Regions from separate parts of the Homo sapiens genome. Here region 1 is linked to region 2. The links come from fine-mapping of genetic effects on gene expression. Tissue or cell type: nucleus accumbens. Region 2 holds a variant in brackets; the other region holds the start of a gene. All regions are shown on one strand. Distances are between the middles of the regions.

Region 1 (10,688 bases), 98 kb after region 2:
ACTTATTCCCAACTACCATGGAGTATTCTCACTTTCTACAACTGTGCTACTGTAGAAGTTAGTGTTTTAATACTGGTATATGCTCGGCTTGAAGACTGACCAAATTGATCAATACATTTAGCCCTTTATTGAAACCTAAGTTTGTTATAAGTGTAATTATGTAACAGTCATATTTCCAACCTGGTTCCCATGGCTGACTTAACCCAATCCATAATCTGGAGCAAGCCTTGGCTAGTGTATTTTGAGATGTCCGTTGTGTTTCAGCTGCCGTTCCTCACTCCGCCTGCTTCTCCAAGCATGGTACTTCTTGATGCTCTTCCTCCATGCAAAGCGCCAGATGCTAAACATGAAACACCAAGACACAGCATACATCGCTACTCCCCCAGCCTTCACAAACCACTTAGGCGTGGGGGAGACCATTTCACAGAAAAGGAGGCAAGCTCCCACACCAATCCTCACTCCTGTGAACAGAGCCACAAAGAGGAAGTCCACTACATCTCCAGTGAAACTGTGATAGTGCCCTGTTTCCCGGAGAAACCAGCGCATCTGTAGCAAGGGGTTGGTAAGCTCACTTCCAAAGAGGACTGCATTGACCTCTGTGCCAGACTCCCCAAGCACAAGGGCCATGATAATGCCCAAGATACTCAATGTGTGATGAGCCAGCATCAAGGCACCCTCAGACTGAAAGTAGACGCACCAGCCCAAGTCGAAGATGAAGTAGCCCAAGGTGAGACACAGGACATGAACTTGGAGAGGTGTATTGGGTGAGCCTGAAACAAACCAAGACAGAAGCAAATTGAGTGACTGGGAATTGTGTTACCTTGCACAGGGATCCTATGTTGTTGTCTTTCAAACCTTACTAGACACTAAAGAAACAAAAACAATAGCAGGCACATGCTTTTTAATGAGGACCAAAGAAAGACTAAAATATAAAATCTAGGTCTTTATCAAACTAAACGATGTTCAGACCCCAGGAAATGCTGTTCTGATGAATCAGACTTCAATGAGTTTGCATCCTTCAATGAACACAGGCAATAATCTCAGTATCCTCTCCGCGGAACAGCATAAAATCCAATTATTTTGTTCCTTCAATTAAAATCCTAAACTTTATTTTTTTTTTTTACTCTGCTAAAGGTTTATTTCCAGACTCTTGAATCATTGTTTCCTGAATGTCAGATTTTTTTCTCAGCTTAATGGGTTACGTTATTGAACACTCAGTGGTCTTAACCCATCCTGAAAGTAGATTCTGGAGAGGGCCCCAAAAGTTAGTGTGTGCTCATGTCCAGGAACATAGGTTTTAAGGACCTGACATATTTGAAACCATTTAGAATCTTCACATAAAACACAAAGCGTAACAGTTGGTTTCATTAGTTTGACAGTTTGGGGGGAAACTCAGAAATTCAGTAAGAAAAGCTAAAGAAATATTTTAAAAATTATATTCCAGGGGAGTTAAGGGCTGCATTGTGTCCTCCCTCCCCAAATTCACGTTAAAGCCCTTAACTGGTAGTACCTCAGAATGTGAGTGTATTTGAAAATAAGGTCTTTAAAGAGGTAATCAAGTTAAAATGGGGTAATTAGAGTAATCCAATATGACTGTTATACTTAAAAGGGATTAGGACACAGATATGCATACATACACACACACACACACACACACACACACACAATATGACTGTTATCCTTAGAAGGGATAAGGACACAGATACGCATACATATACAAACACATACACACACACACACACTATGACTGTTATCCTTAGAAGGGATTAGGACACAGATATGCATACATAAACATACACAAACACACACACACACACACACACACACACTATGACTGTTATCCTTAGAAGGGATTAGGACACAGATATGCATACATATACATACACACACACACACACACACACTATGACTGTTATCCTTAGAAGGGATTAGGACACAGATATGCATACATATACAAACATACACGCGCACACACACACACACAATATGACTGTTATCCTTAGAAGGGATTAGGACACAGGTATGCATACATAAACATACACACACACACACACACACACACACACACTATGACTGTTATCCTTAGAAGGGATTAGGACACAGATATGCATACATATACAAACACACACACATACACACACACACACACAGAGGGGAGACCATGGAAGGACACAGTGGGAGAGCGGCCATGTGCAAGCCAAGGACAGAGGCCTCAGAAGAAACCAAACCTGCTAACAACTTGAACTCCGACTTCTAGCCTCTAGAATTTTAAGAAAATGAACATCTGGTTAAGCCACCCACTCTGTGGTACTGTGTTATGGCAGCCCCAACCAATTAATACAAGGGGGTAAAATTTTTGCATACTTGGCCGGGTGCGGTGGCTCACACCTGTAATCCCAGCACTTTGGGAGGCCAAGGCGGGTGGATCACGAGGTCAGGAGATCGAGACCATCCTGACTAACACAGTGAAACCCCATCTCTACTAAAAATACAAAAAAAATTAGCTGGGCATGGTGGCGGGCACCTGTAGTCCCAGCTACTCGGGAGGCTGAGGCAGGAGAATGGCGTGATCCTGGGAGGCGGAGCTTGCTGAGATTGAGCCACTGCACCCCAGCCTGGGCAACAGAGCAAGACTCCATCTCAAAAAAAAAAAAATTGCATACTTCTGAAAGTAACACTTGTACATCTAGTAACAAAAAGGATAAGGAACATCTCATCCTCTTAACATAGACATGGAAAGATGCTGTCTTTTGAATAGACAGTCAAGTAAAAGTTGCAAGTTGCCAAAAATATGTATGATACAGTTCTATTTTTGTCTTTTCGGGGGTGGTAGTGGAAGATGTTGATACTGGCTTTATAGTTTTTGTATTTCCAATTAAATTGTAACAAGCAATTTAAAATCTGTTTTAAAAGTAGAGAGTTATGAAAAGCAGAAACAACAGGTGACATAAACAATATCAGAGTTAACAATGAAGAAGAATAAGGATTCCAATACAAAATTATAATGGGAATTAGTCTTCAGTATTGTACAAATTCTGTTTAAAAGTCCCATACTTCTAAGACTACCCCCAAATCATAAATCCCTAAGGGAAAATCCCCTACCTACCTGGGTGGGTAAAAGGCCATGGGCCATCAATGAAGCCAATATAAGCGGAGAGGCCTATAGAGAGGACTCCATGGGTGAAGGTGACCAGGCGGCAGCTCCACTCATAGCTTCGGTGCTTATTCAGGTGGCAGAAAGAAATATAGAGCGAGAGCCAGCCACACAGGCTGCACAGCACCTGCAGACACAGAGCTAATGCCATCCTGTGATGAAAAGACCAAAACCAGAAAAACAAAGGATGCACCCTAAGAAAACAGCACTGGGTCATTTTGTGTATATATCCTCATTTCTATTATAGAATAGTTCAAAAATATTGCCTTATCTTATTTTCCTTATCTACACGGCCAAGAATCTTCTATTTAAGTATGGCTGTATTTATCATTCCAAGTTCCTCAGAGATAACATGTTAGCAACTGGTCAATGTTGTAAACTGGAAACCAGGAACTGCACTCCGAGCTGGTAGGCTGACATCACATTTTATGATGAGTAAATGTCAATAATAACCCTCTAGCGATGACTGACCTTGGGCAATAATACACAGAAAATAAAGCACATGTATTAAATAATGTCTTCACAGTTCAAAAACCCCAATGAAACGCACTCATGAAAAAACAGAACACTGCCACGTTGGTTTCTGCTAGAGGTCACATGACACATGGCAGTTTAATGTGGTTTTAAGCTGATACTAAATTCAGCTGAGGTTTGGATTTGGGTCACAGGTTCATCAGTCAAAAACAAAACTTGGGATAAACTTAAATACAGAACTAAACAAAGAGTCCAGACATCTTGGAGGTTGGGGGGAAATCCTGGCTTTATTCAGTTCTGAAATCCGACCCAAAGATTTGCCAAGAGTGAAGCAGAAGGATTCTAAGGTTCAAGAGGAGGGGAGTTTTTGTTGAGATCTAAAAATATCCTTAAGGCAATTATTCAGTTAAAAATGAAATGAAGCCAGAAAGCTGTACCTTGGAACTTTTACTGGTGACAAATACGTTAGGACAAGAACAACTATAACTGAGTCAATTTAGTCACACAGGACTAAAATCTAAATGAGCAAGATGTTGTTATTAGTTAGTATTCATTAGCTCCTCCATTGAAACGTACAAATAAAAAGTCAAAAACATATCAGATATCTACTTCATCTCAGCAGACATTTTCTGCATGGCTATGCTTATTGCTTAACCTTATTCTGACCAGTGAAATAGTTATCTGTGGACGTCAATACACAAGCCACTTCCCAAGAATGCTATCCAGAGAGGGCTTCATGAAGGTCAAGTTCTGTACAGCTTTCATCTGAAATCAGATTTCCATTCAAGAAAACCGTAGGTGTCCATAATAGACCTGGGTTCCAATTCTGTCTCTGTCCCTAGAGAGACTAGCCATAAGAGTGTGGGCAAATCACTTTAACCTCTAGAACCACAGTTAAAAAAAAAAAGAAGAAATTAAAGAAAAGAAAAGAAGGAAGAGGAAGGGGAGGAAGGGAAAGGAAAGAAAGAGACTAGGACTGAAGAACTCTACAGTCCGGTCCAGTTCTGACATGGAGTTCTGAGATAAACTTTGTAAAACATCAAGGCCAATTCTCAGAGTAAGGGCCAGAAATACAAAGTATCCCAGGTGAAGAGAACTGCCCTCCCTTATCTCCTTCTAAAGGCCAGGGTCACTGGCCAGTAATGCGGATCAGCTCATTTGGATATGCCTATTAGTATTTTTAGAGTCTTCTTCTCTGAATCCTAATTCCTTGGCAGAACAGAGAAAACAGTAGCCCATTTACAAACACTTAAATAAAAGAACAGACATTCGTAAATGGCAGACACAACTCTGTGACCTTGGGAACTCCCTGTGTGGGTTTCGGCTTTTTGCTCTTGGTTTTTGCCAAAGAACGGAAGGGCATTTGGAAGGCCATCGCGGCTCAGAGGTCCAAGGCTCCTCTCCTGGTTTCTCCCGTTCCAGGGCCAGACTGGCGAGGAGGAGCCTTGGAGCAGGCGTGGCTGGCGGCGAGCGCGGGCCCCGGGGCCTCGCAGGGACGGCGATCGCATCTCCGCGCGGCGGTGCCTGCGACGCTCGGCCACGCCCGGACCAAGAGCCGGAGCCAGGCACCGTTATCCCCGCATCCCGCTGGCGCCGCAGCCTGGCGCAGGAAGGCCTCGGGCGTCCGAGGCAGGAGGAGGCCCGCTCCCCTTCGGAGGCGAGCCCGGGCCCTCTGCCGCCTCCTTCCCCACCAATGGGCCGCGCGGGCCCCGTGCCCACCCCGGCCGGGCAGTTCGCGCCGAGCGGTTACCTGGCGGAGCGCACCGGGAAGCCTCGGGCGCCCGGGCGCCCGCAGCTCCCGGCCCGGATCGCGGCAACAGGAAGCGGAGGAGCCAGAGGCGGAGGACGAGGCTGTGACGGCGGCGGAGGAGGAGCCGGGGGTCTGGGGGCACCTGCTGGCTGGGAGGATGGAGCGCAGAGCCGGAGCCGGGCCACCGACGCTCCGAAAGGGCGCGGGAGGGTCCTCCTTCTCTGGCGGGGGGGTCAAGAGGGATCTAGCGGTGACGTGAGACCTGGAGGCCGCTGCTCTTGTTTAGCTGTTGTTGTTTGTTTAAATCATTATCCACTTCTCCCCTCCCCTCAATGGGACAGCTCATCCAATCAATTTATCGAGTACCTACTAAGTACTTGCACCCTTACTAGGCATTGTGGGGGATGTAAGACATCGTTCTTGCCCTCGTGCTTGAATTTAAGTCGTGAAACAGGAATTGATGAGCAGGAAAGTGCTCAGGCCTGAGAATTAGAAGTTACAGTATTCCAGTCAGCCCTGTAACCAACTTGACAGTAAAGCATAAGGCTTGAAAGTGAACCTTGCTTGGTACCTCTTTGGGCAAGTTACTTTTCTGTTGCCTCCCTTTCCTCGATCCTGAGGATGGGGATAGTAATAACACCTATCTCATATGGTTATTTTGAGAATTTTAAAATATTACATGTGTAAAGTGCTTTGAACAATGACTGGCACATGGAAGTCACTACATAAATACCAACTGTTTTATTTCACTTTGGGTAAATCCTTTTCTTCTCTGGTTCTATTTTAATACCAAGCAGAGTAAGTTTGAGCGATAAGAATGGAGGCTCGAATGGGGTAAAGACGGTGTCTGTCTTGATTGATCAGGACAGGCAATCCCGGGTGCTGAGGAACCTAGACATTCTCAAAGGAGAAGACCGTTAGCAGAGGTGTGAGTGTTTAGGCCGTGCCTGGGGAATAGTAAATATTCTAGTTTTGGTCATTTATCTTACCAACTCTTCAAAGGTAAGGATGGCACTGGTTTCATCTTTGTTTCCCTAGTACCTAGCATGAGGCAGGTACAATAAATGTTTGTATGTTGAATTAATGTGAAATGAGCCTGGGAAACTATCTTGGAAGCATATCACAGTTCCTAAAGTGTGTTGATCAACTATGCCACTTGGGAAGTGTTTTCAAATACCCTGTGCAGGCTGTACCTTGAATATTATGATTTATTAGGTCTGGTATGGGGTCCAGGGATCTGTATTTTTTAAAACCTGCCCAGGAGTCATTCAGACGATCACATTTGATAACCATTGCTGTTAGAGTCCTTAAATGCCTCTGATGCCAGCCTAAGATGCCAGGCTGAGAGAGCTTATTATGTGGAAGCTCATGATGTTATTGAACAAGGGAATCATATTATCATGCTCTCCAAGCCCTTGCTACTCAAAGTGTGGTCTATGGACCAGCAAAATCTGCATCACCTTGGAGTTCATTAGAGACTCAGAATCTCAGAACCTACCCCTGGACCTACCAAACTAGAATGTGCATTTTAACAAGTTCCCCAGTGATTCGTATACACATTTGGGTCGTAGTTCTTAATCTTGATAGCATGGTAGTATCACTTGGGAGCTATTTAAAATCCTAATACCCAGGGCACACTCCGAAAAAAGTAAATCAGAATCTCTGTGTAGATATCAATCAATTTAAAAGCTCCCTGGGTGATTCCAATGTGCAACCAAAGTTGAGAACCCCAGCTCTAGCAATACTCAATTAAAATCAGTGTAAGATGAATTGCAGAAGGCCTGTTACACATGTGTTAGGATAGACCGGATAACAGGTAATGATAGTCTGGAGAAGTAAAACATGGAAGGCTCCACTTCACTGAATGGAGAGTATGCAGAGCTCACCCTTTCCCCCATTTGTTTTGTTGCAGTATTTTTTTTCTAGTATCTGAATCTGGACTTTCTTCTTGCTGCCATCATTTCCCACAAAAGTAGGGTACTAAAGCCTTCAGGAGCCTAAAGGCTGAGGGGGTAAGGTAAAAGGGAAGGAGCCAGTTCTTCCTAAAATATTGGGCCTTTATCCTAGGGTGACTGGGATTCTAGGTTCAAGCTTCATGACCTAGGATTAAATTTTGTTGATGTATGTATCTTTGGCCACAATCCCTGTTCCACCAAATCAGATCCTTGTCACCGGTAGCATCCCCCAGAAATTCTGGGCTGTTAAGGAGAGCAGGGGACAGGAAGCTCTCCACCAATTTAATAGCAATGAGAATAATAATCACAATAATAACAAATAACACCTATACTGCCCTTATTAATGTACCAGGCATTGTTCCAAGCACTACATATATATATATATACACACACACACACACATATATATACACATATACATATATATGTATACACACACACACATATATATGCATACACATACACACACATATATATATACACACACTCAATCCTCACAAACAATTCTATGGGATGGGACCTATTGTTATCTCCATTTTACAGGTGAGAAACTGAGTCATGGAGCAGTCAAGGCTTTCCCAAGATGACACGGTTAGTAGGAGGCAGAGTAGGGTACAAACCCAGGCAATATGACTCTGGAGATCACGCCTGTATGGCAGATGCACCTGACAGCGGTAACTTAAGTATAACCTGAGAATGACCCTGTGTGGCAGACACACCTGAATGTGTGTCTAGTGTTCCAAGCGTGGCCAACCCAGAGATTATTCCTTATGTATGAGGAACATCTGAGCCCCTGGCCCAGCCCTTGGAACATGGGCCATACAGGGGGCTGAGGCCCTTTGTTTTGGGGTAAATGAAGGTTGCCAGGTGGAGGTTGTTAGCGGGAGGGTGTTAGATGAGAGTGCCATGTAAACTGCGTGCTTTCTGCAGGCAGTGGTGGTTCTCCTGTCCAGCCTGTTGCCACCGGATCCCTCTTATGTAAGTTCCCCTCAACAAACCCTATGTCGCATTTGTTGGCTCTTGGTCTCTGGCCTCTTGAATCTGGTGCTATCCCTCCTGAAGTCAATAGGGGTCTGGCATGACAATGCCCTTAACCACTGTGATATGCTGCCTCCACTTACCTAAAAATTCCTGCAGGTTTGCACTGTATTCTGCTGTATTCACAACTCCTATCTCAGTGAAGGGCATTAAAAATTTAGAGGGAAAAAAAGGGAATTTTATATTTAAAAAACATAACTGCCTGTTATGTGCTAGTCACAATGTTAGCCACAGGGATACAGAAAAAAAAAAAAAAAGCCTCAACTGCAAGGAGTTCCCCCCACAGAAGGAAGAGGCAGAAGAGTCAGCAGGTGAGCTATGGTGGGGCCACACAGAGCACAAGAGGAACCCTGGCAACCTGGGAGCTCCGGCCAGGGTTCCTGCTTTGAGTCCTAGGGTTAATAAACTCAGTCTCTGAGTCAGACCAAAAGTTCTTACTTTGTCTTAGGAGGGCAGAGCTGGGCCCACCCGTTTTGAGTCAACTAAACATCAGAGTATGAAATACAGTTCGGTTGGGCGCGGTGGCTCACGCCTGTAATCCCAGCACTTTCGGAGGCCAAGGCAGGCGGATCACGCGGTCAGGAGATCGAGACCATCCTGGCTAACATGGTGAAATCCCGTCTCTACTGAAAAATAGAAAAAATTAGCTGGGCGTGGTGGCGGGCGCCTGTAGTCCCAGCTACTCAGGAGGCTGAGGCAGGAGAATGGCGTGAATCTGGGGGGCGGAGATTGCAGTGAGCCGAGATCGTGCCACTGCACTCCAGCCTGGGTGACAGAGTGAGACACCATGTCAAAAAAAAAAAAAATACAATTTGAAATGTAGCAACAACAATCTTTTTTTTTTCCTCCCTTGGCAATGACTGGTGGTTGCCCTCAGATTCTCTTGTCCCTAGTTAGATGCTGAGGCGGCGAATCAAGCTTCAGTTAAACTTCCCTGGAATTACAGATTTTACAGAATCATGCAGACATGAAAGGTGACCTTGCTCACTTTCAGGCTTGATTCTGTTCAGCAATGTCCAAGTTAGTTGGCAAGGAAAGCTACTGGAGTCTGAACAGGCTACAATTCTGTTTATTTCTTTCATAAAAAATCACGGGCAAATGGATGAAAATCCAAGTTTTGGACAATGCAGAGGATCAGCTTTCAGCACTCACCTGAGTAGGATGTCAAGGTAGCCAGGACTTCTGTAGAAAAGGGTCAGCTCTAGCATCCATGGGCATACAGGGAGGAATGCATGCATGCATGTGTATGTGTGCAGAGATATGCACAGATGGGCTCATGGGTGGTGGAGCAGTCCCCTTAGTTACTTAAAGTACTGCGGAAGGCTCCTCTTGCTGTCTCTTTGCTACATACCTGGCCCCTTTTAACTAGATATTTTCTTGAGAAAGTAAACATTACCATTAGGCCTTCTCCCACTTCATGACGTGAAATAGGAATTTTTAAAGCCCCATTCAAACATCAGGGAGCGGTTAACTCTTCATTATTAATATTTAGGTTTCCTGTGTGGATATTATTATTTGCAAGAAGTGTTTAATCCTAATTTTAGTTTTTCCCCATCAGCCATTACATTTTTGAAGGGCCTCTCTTTCCCACAGGTCAGCGTTTATCTCAGTAATGGTAACTATTTATTACTTATTTTATTTTTTGAGACGGAGTCTCGCTCTGTCGCCCAGGCCGGAGTGCAGTGGCACAATCTTGGCTCACTGCAGGCTCCAACGGTAACTATTTAAATTTGTATTAATCTAAGAAAAAACACAAGAATAGGTTTGCTGCCTTTCAACCTCCTAACCAAAAGTCACAATGCATTCTGAAGCCATATATATATATATATATATATATATATATATATATATATACATGAGACAAATATGTATATTTGAGACAGGGTCTCACTCTGTTGTTCAGGCTGGAGTGCAGCGGCATGATCATTGCTCACTGCAGCCTTGACTTCCTGGGCTTAATAGATCCTCCCATCTCAGGCTCTTCAGTAGCTGGGACTACAGGCATACACCACCAAGCCCAGCTAATATGTGATTATTAAATTACCCTCTGCCTTAACTATTTATTGCTTTATGTTGTGAGTAATGAACAACTGCCGTTCAGGGTATCTGAGACATGAGACATTAGCCTCAGTCCCCACCTCTTAAGTTTCAAATGACTTCACCTTAAACATTCACCATCCTCCCACTTACAATATCTCTGGCCTACTCTGCCCTCAAGGTAGTTATGTTACAGAGAGTAACAACTCTGAATTCTTCAGGGCCCTGTAATAACATATGTCATCTTTAGCATCAGTTTGGGGAGTAATACACTTAATGT
Region 2 (10,688 bases):
AGTATCTTTTACTTTCCCTCATTTGGATCTTTACTATCGATCCCCATGCATAGCTCAAACTCCCAGTACCTCTTACCTGAAATATGAAGACAGCTCCCTAATTCATCACCCATCATCCCTCCTTGTTTCACAACCCTATAATATTTTACCAAATTAGTCTTCCTATAATCCTAGGATAATCATGTACTCTTTTGCTTAAAAAGAAACAACATTGAATGGATTCTTACTGCTTATCTAGTTACATGTAAATTAGCTTGGGAGATGTGACTTTTCAAAATATATAGTCAACCTACTATTTTCAAGTTCATCTCCCACTATGCACATCCTTAACAGGCACCAACCAACCAAAAATCCTAGCTACTTCTCCACAATATTTGATGCTTTTTTGGCTCCTTCTATTTATTGTTCTTCTTCTATGTGCTTTCTCCCTCCTTTGAATCCTCATAGAACTTAGCATTTTTTTTGCCCTCATAATGTCTACATTCTGCCTTGTATTATAGTTACTTGTATACTCTTGACTTAATCTCAATCAACAAAGCTTTGTTAAGCACCTTCTACATGCTAAGCAATATTTCAGGTACTGGAAACGTAACAGTAAACAAAATAAACAAAAATCCCCGCCCTCCTAAAAGTACACATTCTAAGATGACTATAATCTTGAACATAGAGTACCTTAACTATATTTCTGTGGGTGGCACACTGTTTTACATATGGCAGGTGTCTAATACTTGTTAAATTAAATCTGCTATGACAATATTCTAATCATTCCTATTATGTAATTTTTATATTAGTAAATCATTTTCTAAAATCTTAAATTTAATTAGTTCATCAGCCGAATACTTGAAAACTCTCCATATAAAGTAAACACATCCTTATAAGACTGAGCATTTAACTAAGAAATTTCCCCATTCTTACCCCCATGAGCACAGGACTAGTGATTCTCTCCATATTCCCAGATGCTCCAGGTGAATGAGGAGATGTCATGATGGGAGACATATGTCCAATGACTGACGGCTCTACTTCAGAGTCGGCAAGTGGAATCTGGGGCGACCCAGGTGGGCGTCCCTGAACAGTGAGAGCTACATAGGAACCAGCTTGGGGTGGGGAGACGGAAAAAGGGAAGGGAAGGGAAAATAACATTGTCAAGAAACTTTTTATACCATTTTACTACTTAATCTTCGATAGTTCTAAAAGATCCAGTTATGTAAGACAGTCCCATCATCTGCTACATCATGTCTCCACAGAAAAAAAAACTAATTTGTCATTTCTCTTTTATGACTGCCCTAAAAATCCAAAAGAATGATGCCGTTTTCAGATAGCAAGTTACTACTAGTAAGATCAGATATTACTTAAAAGCAAATAAAATTTATAACTCCAAGAATATATTATATATTTTCTTTATTTAGAGGAGTGTTAAAATCAACCATCTATTAGTGGCTATGTTTAATTAATTTCTTAAATGTAAATTTTTTAAATCTTCTTTTTTTTTTTTAATTAGGGTCTCACTTTGTCACCCAGGCTGGAGTGCCGCGGCACGATCTCAGCTCACTGCAGCCTCGACTTCCTGGGTTCAAGCAATCCTCCCTCCTCAGCCCCCACAAGTAGCTGCAATGTTTTTTTTTTTTAAAGATAGGGTTTCGCCATGTTGCCCAGGCTGGTCTTAAACTCCTGAGCTCAAGCGATCCACCCGCCTTGGCCTCCCAAGGTGCTAGGATTAGAGGTGTGAGACACAGCACCTGGCCTAGATCTTCATATTTTAAGATGACACTAACTAGGCAGGGTTTAGTGAATATGCTAGAACATAAAATGCAATTTTAAATTAACTTTACAAAATGAGTATGACCAAAAAATATTCCACAATAACAGGGAAAAACACAATCAATAATAAGTAGTAAATTTTAGTAGAAAATATTTGGAGGAATGGACAGGAATTCAGTAGACATATTGCGGGGGGCGGGAATCTAGACAGCAAAAATCACCATAATCAGGCCAGGCATGGTGGCTCATGCCTGTAATCTCAGCACTTTGGGAGGCTGAGGCAGGCAGATCACAAGTTCAGGAGATCAAGACCAGCCTTGCTAACATGGTGAAACCCAGTCTCTACTAAAAATACAAAAAATTAGCCGGGCGTGGTGGCACATGCCTGTAGTCTCAGCTACTAGGGAAGCTGAGGCAGGAGAATCACTTGAACCTGGGAGGCGGAGGTTGCAGTGAGCCGAGATTGCGCCACTGCACGCCAGCCTGGGTGACAGAACAAGAATTCGTCTCAAAAAACAAAAACAAAAACAAAAACAAAAAAAAACACCATAATCAGAGTCAGTAATAGATATGGCAAAACTTTTTTCTTAGATATTTCAATAGAACTTTTAAATGTATTTCACACTTGTCTCCCAATTTAACCCTCCCATGGAAATCATTATCAATTATTTCACAGTGTTTTGGTGTTCTAAAAACTAGTTTTGCTATGTATAATACTCACAAGTGTTATAATTTGGAGGAATTTTACATATAAACACTTTCTAAGGCTCTTCAATCTTATTGCTCTCTATCAGAAAGTCATCTATTATATCTCACTTGCCTATGTATTTGGTTTTAATAGCTTCCTAGCTTTTCCCTTCCTTTCTTTAGCTGTTTCTAAACTGCTCTGATTTGATATCACTTTTATTATATCCAGAATACACATTAGAAAGTAGGACATGCAGGAACTCTGTTACATACACCCAGGCTTTACAGATGTGATGTCAAATTTACATCAGTTTTGGATATGCAGAGGTTTTTATGCTTTACTTTAAGTTTTTAGCTATGCCCTTACTATTGGGTAAGTAATTTATTGCTAGAATCCCAGGATTTAATTTTTTAAGTAAAATTTATACTGGAATGAGCAAAAAATATAACCTAGAAAGCTAAAGAAATGTTTTTATACACCTCAATGGACATCAGGCATAAACTCATTAACATAAACCATATTTATGCAGCACATAACAATTTATAAATCACATTCTCATTAAATAAGTGGTCAAGTTTATTCAAGTATGGGGATCTAATTTTGATCACTGCACTCTTTTAAACTAAAGAACGCTGATCAAAGTGACCATTTGGAGCACTGGTACTCTGATGAAAAAGTTTAAAAAATTTCATAGTTGCTTAACATAGCAGTAAAAAGGCCAAGAAAAAAGTTAGTTTATTAAATTTCTTTTGAAGATGTCCATCCACCCAATACAGAGAAACAGAATTAAATAAAACAGTAGTGATTCTGATTGATCACAAACAACTATCTCTTATTTCTAGTCTACTTTACTGTGGAATAATCTGATGCAGAAGATCATAAATTCTTTTTTTAATTCCTTTTTTAAAAAAATTTCATTCAGTTCAAGCAGTCTCTCTCTTTTTTTTTTTTTTTTTAAGAGATACAATAACAAATACATACGGCCCAAACCAGGCCAGAACAAAGAAAAAGGAAGTTATATTTTAGGTGGTGGACTCTCATGTGACTTTCTTTACTTCTGTTATAACTGTCATGCTATTTTCCATTCAGTATGTGAAGCAATTAGAAAATATAAAATCTTGGCCAGGTATAGTGGCTCGTGCCTGTAATCCCAGCGCTTTAGGAGGCTGAGATGGGTGAGCCCAGGAGTTTGACAGCAGCCTGGGGAACACAGCAAAACCCTGTCTCTACCAAAAAAACAAGACAAAACAAAAAACAAAAAACAAGGTGGGAGGATCACTTGAACCCAGAAGTTGGAGGCTGTAGTGAGCTATAATTGCACCATTGCATTCTACAAGACCCTACCCTAAAAACAAACAAACAAAAAAAAAAAAAAAACCAAGAAAACATAAAATCTCTCTTGGAAAGCAGGTAAGGTTAAAGGATAACAACAAAATGAAACCAAAGCCCAGGTTGGGGAAGATTCCACCTGACTCAGATTCAGATGACCCACCCCATCACCACCTGCTAGCAAAGCTCACAGGGCCACTGAACCTTCCCTTCTCCCTGTGCAGATGGGAAAACTGAGGCCCTGTGAGTGGCTGAGGCCTGGCTTGCCCATAACTCACTGCCAGCTCGAGGTTCGTGAATCCACCTTTGACCCTGCAAGTGACGGGAGGTTAGCTGCAGACTCCCACTGCTTCAAGCCTGTTTCTCCACAGAGAACTAAGTCCAAGTGGGCTATTCACTCAAACCTGAAGATCACAAATTCTTAACCCTAAAGATTTCCAAGAGAAGATCGCTACTCTGGATTATATAATCATTTACTTATCTGAGGGAAAGTGATTGTGCTAGATGATTTTTAAAGTTCCATTTCAGTTCATCAGGCCATATGTCTGACTTCTCAACCTCCTTCCTCTCAGGTGACTCATGCATTTCTTTCAAATATATGTATCAAATATTACCAAGAATGACAGGAATATTATAATCAACCATATAAATGGAGTTGACAAAAGATAGCTATTAGTAAGCTAAGAGTTTTCACCTCAGATTTTCCTTCAATGCAGGGATCAGCAAACTCCAGCCAAGGGGCTAAACCAGGATCACAGACTTTTGGCAAATAAAGTTTTACTGAAGCTCAGCCACACCCATTCATTTACATATAGTCTATGGCTGCTTTCATGATACAATGACAGAGTCGGCAGTAGACTATATAGTCCACATAGCCTAAATATTTACTATTTGGCCTATTACAGGAAATTTGCTGCTCCTTACTTTAAGGGTTTCAGAAAACAATTAAAACTAAGAATAACATTCACCTACATTTGATTAGCTTCACCACCTCCAGATGATTTGAATGAGTCACCAGAGTTCCATTCACCTGTAAGAAAACGAAAGTAGTGTATGTCAGATACATTCTATTGAGACAATGGATAAAATGACTTCAAGAATTATCATACATAATATAACCAATATAATATAGTAATCACATTACATTAAAATATTTATGTATTTGATTCAATATTCATTTTCACACCATGATTCTACAGGGCATATTCAGCAACAAAATGAACTTAAACATAAAC[C/T]GAGGCCTTGACATACAAAACAGTACAACTTATTCACCATGACAAATGACAAAACATAACATGAAACAGATTTACAAATCGTTCACGGTGAAGGGCTCATACAAATAGAAAAGATCTCTTTGCTTTTAATTACCAAGTCATCAATTTGTCAAAATTAATAATAAAAAATAATTTTTAAAATAAGTATTTCCACAATATTCAATTTGCTTTTAGTTTTTCAACCATGATCTAATCTTCACAAAGAAAATTAATTTTCAGACCGGCTAAATGTAGAAAATGTTATCCCGATTCTGAATTAAACCAAACAAATCAAGGCAAAACTATCAAATGTGGATTTAACATTAATTTTCTGATTAATTCTCTGATCCAAGTTATCTAAAATACAAATATATCAGTGTAAAAAACAGAAGTACAAGTATACTCATCCTGCCCCATGAGGCAGTTACTGTTAGCTATGACATTTAATTTTGGAGACACTTTTCTAGTATACACACACCAAAGAGACACATAAACATTATACATTACGACTGGCTTTTTCCTGGAAAAAAAAAATAAAACTTTTTTTTCACTGTACGGCAGCTATCTTTCAATAAAGATACACACTGACCTAATCCATTCTTTTCAAAAGCTGCAAATGGAATATAATTTATTTCTCTGTCCCTCAGTTTATGCACAGTTATGTAATAAAGCCAGTACAAATTTCCCTGTACACACGACTTCACATTTGTACACTTATTTCCTCAGATAAGTTCCTAAAAGCAAAATTGCTTGTCACATGTTATATACTTTCTTAAAGGCTTTTGATACATATTCACAGACTTTCATCCAAACAGGTTTTACCTAATTTATACTCACAACGAACTCATGAGAATAGTCATTTTACCATACCCAAACTATACTAAATGTGTATTACCAATCTTTAAATTTTCTGACAGCCAAATGTATTTTTCACCTATCATTTTAATTTCTTCTTCTTTGTTATCAGTGAGGTTGGCCATATCCTCATTAATATGTTATGTATTTCAGTTACTTTAGGGAACTGCCTGATAAAATTCTTTGCCCATTTTTCTTTTAGAATATTTATTCCTTTCTTATAATTTAAAAGTGTTCTTTAAATTTAAGGATATCTGGTCTGTGATACGTTTCAGATATTTCTTCCAAATTATTTTTCATGGTATGTTTTCTTATGTAATAATTTGATTTTAAGTAATCAAATTAGTCAATTATTTAAAGAATAGTTACTAACTAACCCATTCTTTCTCTACTGATCTGAATTCAAAATCTATTTCTAGTCTCTCTGTTGTGTTCCACTGGTAGGTCTATATCTAGATTAGAGTCATATACATCTCTTCTCATACATACACATACATATAACATGTTTTTATCTTTAGTGATTCTTATATCTTTATAAAGTTCATCTGGAAGAATAATCAGATAGACATCTACCACTACAATTCTATTTGCATACAGGTCAGGTATCGCTTATCTGAAATACCTGGTACCAGAAGAAGTGTTTTGGATTTTTTTGAAGTTTGGAATATTTGTATATACATAATGATACATCTTGGGGATCAGACCCAGGTTTAAATATGAGCCTTTTATGTTTCATATATACCTTATACACATAGCCTGAAGGTAGTTTTATACATTTTAAATACTTTTGTGCATGGAACCAAGTTTTTTGTTTTGGTTTGGTTTTATTTGTTTTGTAAAGACAGGGTCTCACTATATTGCCCAGGTTGAAGTGCTGTGGCTATTCTCAGGTATGATCAAAGTGCACTGCAGTCTCAGCTCCTGCACTCAAGCAATCCTCCCACCTCAGCCTCCTGAGTAGCTGGTAATACAGGCTCAAGCTACTGTACCTGGTGAAACCAACTTTTGACTGTGACCCATCACATGAGGTCAGGTGTGAAATTTTCCATTCATGGTGTCATGTTGGTACTCAAAAACTTGCAGAGTTGGGAGCATTTCAGGTGTCAGATTAGAAATGTTCAACTTGTACTTTGATGAGAATTGCTTAATAACAGACTAATCTAGACAGAAATGATCTTTCCAACCCTGAATTACTCTCCTACTCAAGAACATATATTCCTCCATTATTTTCAATCCTTTTATTACGTCCTTCAGTAAAGGGTAGTATTAATTTTAAAACAAATGAAATAAGTTTGTATAGTCAACAGATCTATCATACATAGAAGTATGATGCTTTTTATAAAAATCCAAGTGAAAAAAATCAGAATATGACCAATATATGTTGTTTTTTAATCCTACCGTAAATTCTATAATAGCCTATTCCTTACCTTGATGATTCGATCACCTGTCTGTACTCCAGCCCGCATGGCTGCTCCATCTGTATGAGAAATTAATTGCTTAAAATGTGATTCATTTGCATTTACTGATCATCTTCCTGACAGAGAGACAGTATAACAAACTGGTTAAAAACATGGGCTGTCCTTTGGGAGGCCGAGGCGGGCGGATCACGAGGTCAAGAGATCGAGACCATCCTGGCCAACATGGTAAAACCCCGTCTCTACTAAAAATACAAAAATTCACTGGGTGTGGTGGCACGTGCCTGTAGTCCCAGCTGCTCGGCAGGCTGAGGCAGGAGAGTCGCTTTAACCCAGGAGGCAGAGGTTGCAGTGAGCCTAGATTGTGCCACTGCACTCCAGTCTGGTGACAGAGGGAGACTCCATCTCCAAAAAAAAAAAAACAAAAAAAAAAAACAAGGCTGTAAAGTCAGACTTTACATTCAAATGCTGCTTCTGCCACTCACTAGTTGTGTGACCTTGGACTGATTTGATGTTTCTTTACTCTAAGCCTCAATATCACCTATAAAATGGGGATAAAAAAATTGTCTACCTCAAAATTATAGCACCCAACATAAAGGAAGTATTCAATATATGGTAACAGCAGTAGAAAATATTATCACTGTTGTTTTGGGAAAATAAATGGTATTTCTGAAGCCATAGCTATCTCTTTAATCTGTCTTTGCCAAAATATCAGTGGTGCCATGGAAAACTGAAATTTCAGAAACTTTTGTGTGGACAATAAAGTATCATGACCAAGGAGTCACATGATTTCTAAAACTAAATAAAAACTGATTTCTTTCTAACAAGTACAAAAAAAAATCAACTGGAGTAAACTCCTTCCTGTAACTATGACATGATAGACGAATCTAGCACAATAGTCCACATGACCTGCAATCTATGTAATTATTCTATTCTTGGCAATTGCCATTATTTAAGCTTTTCTATTCTTACTCTGTTTACTGAGTGATAAATTGTTTTTTAAAATGCCTTGCCTTCTTTGACAGACTGTACGAAGACTGGATTGTCTCCACTGACCGTCAGCCCAAATCCATTGTCATCTTTCTGGATGATTACGCAACGCTGAACAAGACCTGCACAAGAACCACAGTGTAAAACAAGAAGGAAGAGAAAACAGAGAAAGGAAAAGACAATAATTATATATTAGTAATAAACTGTGTTCCATCTGGAGAAACAAAAAGTAGCACATGTAAATCCACATGGTAAAATAAGAACACTAACCACCATCAACAAAGCAAACACAAGAACACCACAGAGTCACACATACTGTTTTCTCACTGGCGGAGTATAATAGAATTGCTCCAATATTAAAAACAGCTATGGCAAACTGCAAAATATTAAGTATTAGACATGAGACAGCTAGAAGGAAAGCCCATTCACATCCATGCTATTTCTCTGTAGTAAAAAAATTCTCCCCCTGCCCCACTGCCCTGAGTTTTTGGTACCCTAATTGGTGTTTAACCCAAGAAAAATCAACCATCTTAGGACATGGGGCTAGGAGCATCTCAAGGAAAATTCTGCAGAAATCCAGTCTCACTCTCAAGAAAATATACTCAGGAAAACAGTAAAAAGAAAGGAGGTGCTTACAGAGTACCTGAAGTTATTCCCCAAAGAAGGGAAGAGAAAGGAAGAGTTCAGGGGGAAGAAAAACCCTGGCTTATAGAAAACAGAAACAGAAAAGAGAAAAAAATAGAAAAGATAAAGAATCTGTGAGCTCAACCAGTTCCTTCATCTCTTTCATATACTTACCTGATTCCTAAGGGAGAATTTGTGTTTCTTCTAAACAGCAAATGAAAACTGTCAGGGCAAGGTGAGAGAAAGAGGGCCCCAGCCAGAGGAATAGAAATGTCCTGCCAGGGTAGAACCCTGATTAGTACCCAGGGCTGTTTTATCATAGACCAGATCTGAAGATCTTGAACTCTGTGTTAGCCAGAGACAACATATATTTTCAGCTTTGCAGGATCTAAGCATTTCACCGAAGTCAATATATAAAACAGGTAAAACAACACAAAGATAATGAATAGAAAATAAAAACTTTTTCTAAAGATTTTTATACAAAAAGCCACAATCTTTTAAATATAAGTCTGATTTACCAACCAAACGATATGCTAAAGATATGTTAATAAAAAATATATATAGACTGTGTGTACAATGGCTCATAGAAAACATATACATATAACAAATTATATATATATACACACAGTGTATATACATATCTATTTTTGCTGATAATGACACATCATGAGTACATGAGCCTACTGTAGCTTAACATGAACCTTAACCCTTGAACTCATGACCTACACAAAAATTAAAGCAGATCATGGGCCTAAACATAAGCTAAAATTTTTCATAAGATAACACAAAAGGAAATCGTCAAGACCTTAGGGTATTAAAAAAACAAAAAAGGAAGAAAGAAAGAAAAAGAAAACAGATAAAATACATGTAACAAAATATTTTATAACATTAAAAAAAGACCTTAGGGTGGGTTTATAAACCATAAAAGAAAAAAAACCTAGGAAACTGGACAAAAATTTAAAACATTTGCTATTCTAAAGACACTGGTAAGAAAATGAAAAGGCAGGCCGGGCCTGTAATCGCAGCACTTTGGGAGGCCGAGAAGGGCGGATCATGAGGTCAGGAGATCGAGACCATCCTGGCTAACACAGTGAAACCCTGTCTCTACTAAAAATACAAAAAAATTAGCCGAACGTGGTGGCGGGTGCCTGTAGTCCCAGCTACTCGGGAGGCTGAGGCAGAAGAATGGCGTGAACCTGGGAGGCGGGTCCAACCTGGGAGGCGGGTCCAGCCTGGGCGACAGAGCGAGACTCTGTCACAAAAAAAAAGAAAGAAAAAGAAAAAGAAAATGAAAAGGCAAACCACAGAGAAAATATTCACAATATGGATATCTGATAAAGAATTTGTATCCAGATTATATGCAACTCTCCAGCCAATAATGGAAGACAAATGTTAAAGGGGGCAAAATACTTAAATAAACACATTACAAAGATAGACCAATGGCCAATAAGCACATGTAAAGGTGCTTAACAGCTGCAGTCGTCAGGAAAATACAAATTAAAACCACAATGAGATACCACTATACACCAACTAGTCTGGCTAATCATAAACAGTGGTAGCAAAGAGGTGGAGCAACTAGAACTCTTAGAACATTATAACATTGCTGGTGGGAATGTGCTAACATTCTGGAAAACTGTTTGGAAATTTCTTATAAAGGTAAGCATATATTTGCATATGATCCATTAATTTTACTCTGAAGAGAAAGAACAATTTGTGTCCACAGAAAGACATACACAAATGTTCACAGCAGTTTTATTCATAAGAGCCCAAAACTAG

Direction of the effects. Alleles are on the strand shown, and positions count from the first base shown. SD is a standard deviation of normalised expression in the study named.
With allele T in place of C in region 2, the expression in nucleus accumbens of the gene that starts at base 5,448 in region 1 is higher (small effect, 0.25 SD a copy in GTEx).

Evidence for each region. PIP is the estimated chance that this variant, and not a neighbour inherited with it, causes the effect. A credible set is the group of variants that fine-mapping cannot tell apart.
Region 1: it holds the start of TLCD5, and the variant in region 2 is the best candidate, but not a certain one, in a credible set for the expression of TLCD5 in nucleus accumbens (GTEx, PIP 0.54).

The regions. Positions count from the first base shown.
Region 1 is chr11:120,320,059-120,330,746 of GRCh38, reverse strand. It overlaps TLCD5 (TLC domain containing 5), which reads right to left and starts at 5,448. Exons shown (of 3, transcript NM_001198671.2): 1 at 5,379-5,448; 2 at 3,107-3,306; 3 at 1-770. The coding sequence starts at 3,305. The coding sequence ends at 232. RefSeq lists silencers at 5,084-5,143, 5,214-5,503, 7,876-8,035, a cis regulatory region at 5,767 and an enhancer at 5,695-5,839.
Region 2 is chr11:120,418,475-120,429,162 of GRCh38, reverse strand. It overlaps ARHGEF12 (Rho guanine nucleotide exchange factor 12), which reads right to left. Exons shown (of 41, transcript NM_015313.3): 5 at 8,312-8,410; 6 at 7,311-7,360; 7 at 4,748-4,805; 8 at 916-1,094. Among named protein-coding and RNA genes, the nearest start is that of ARHGEF12, 87 kb to the right of the region's middle. The variant C/T (reference allele first, on the strand shown) is at 5,011.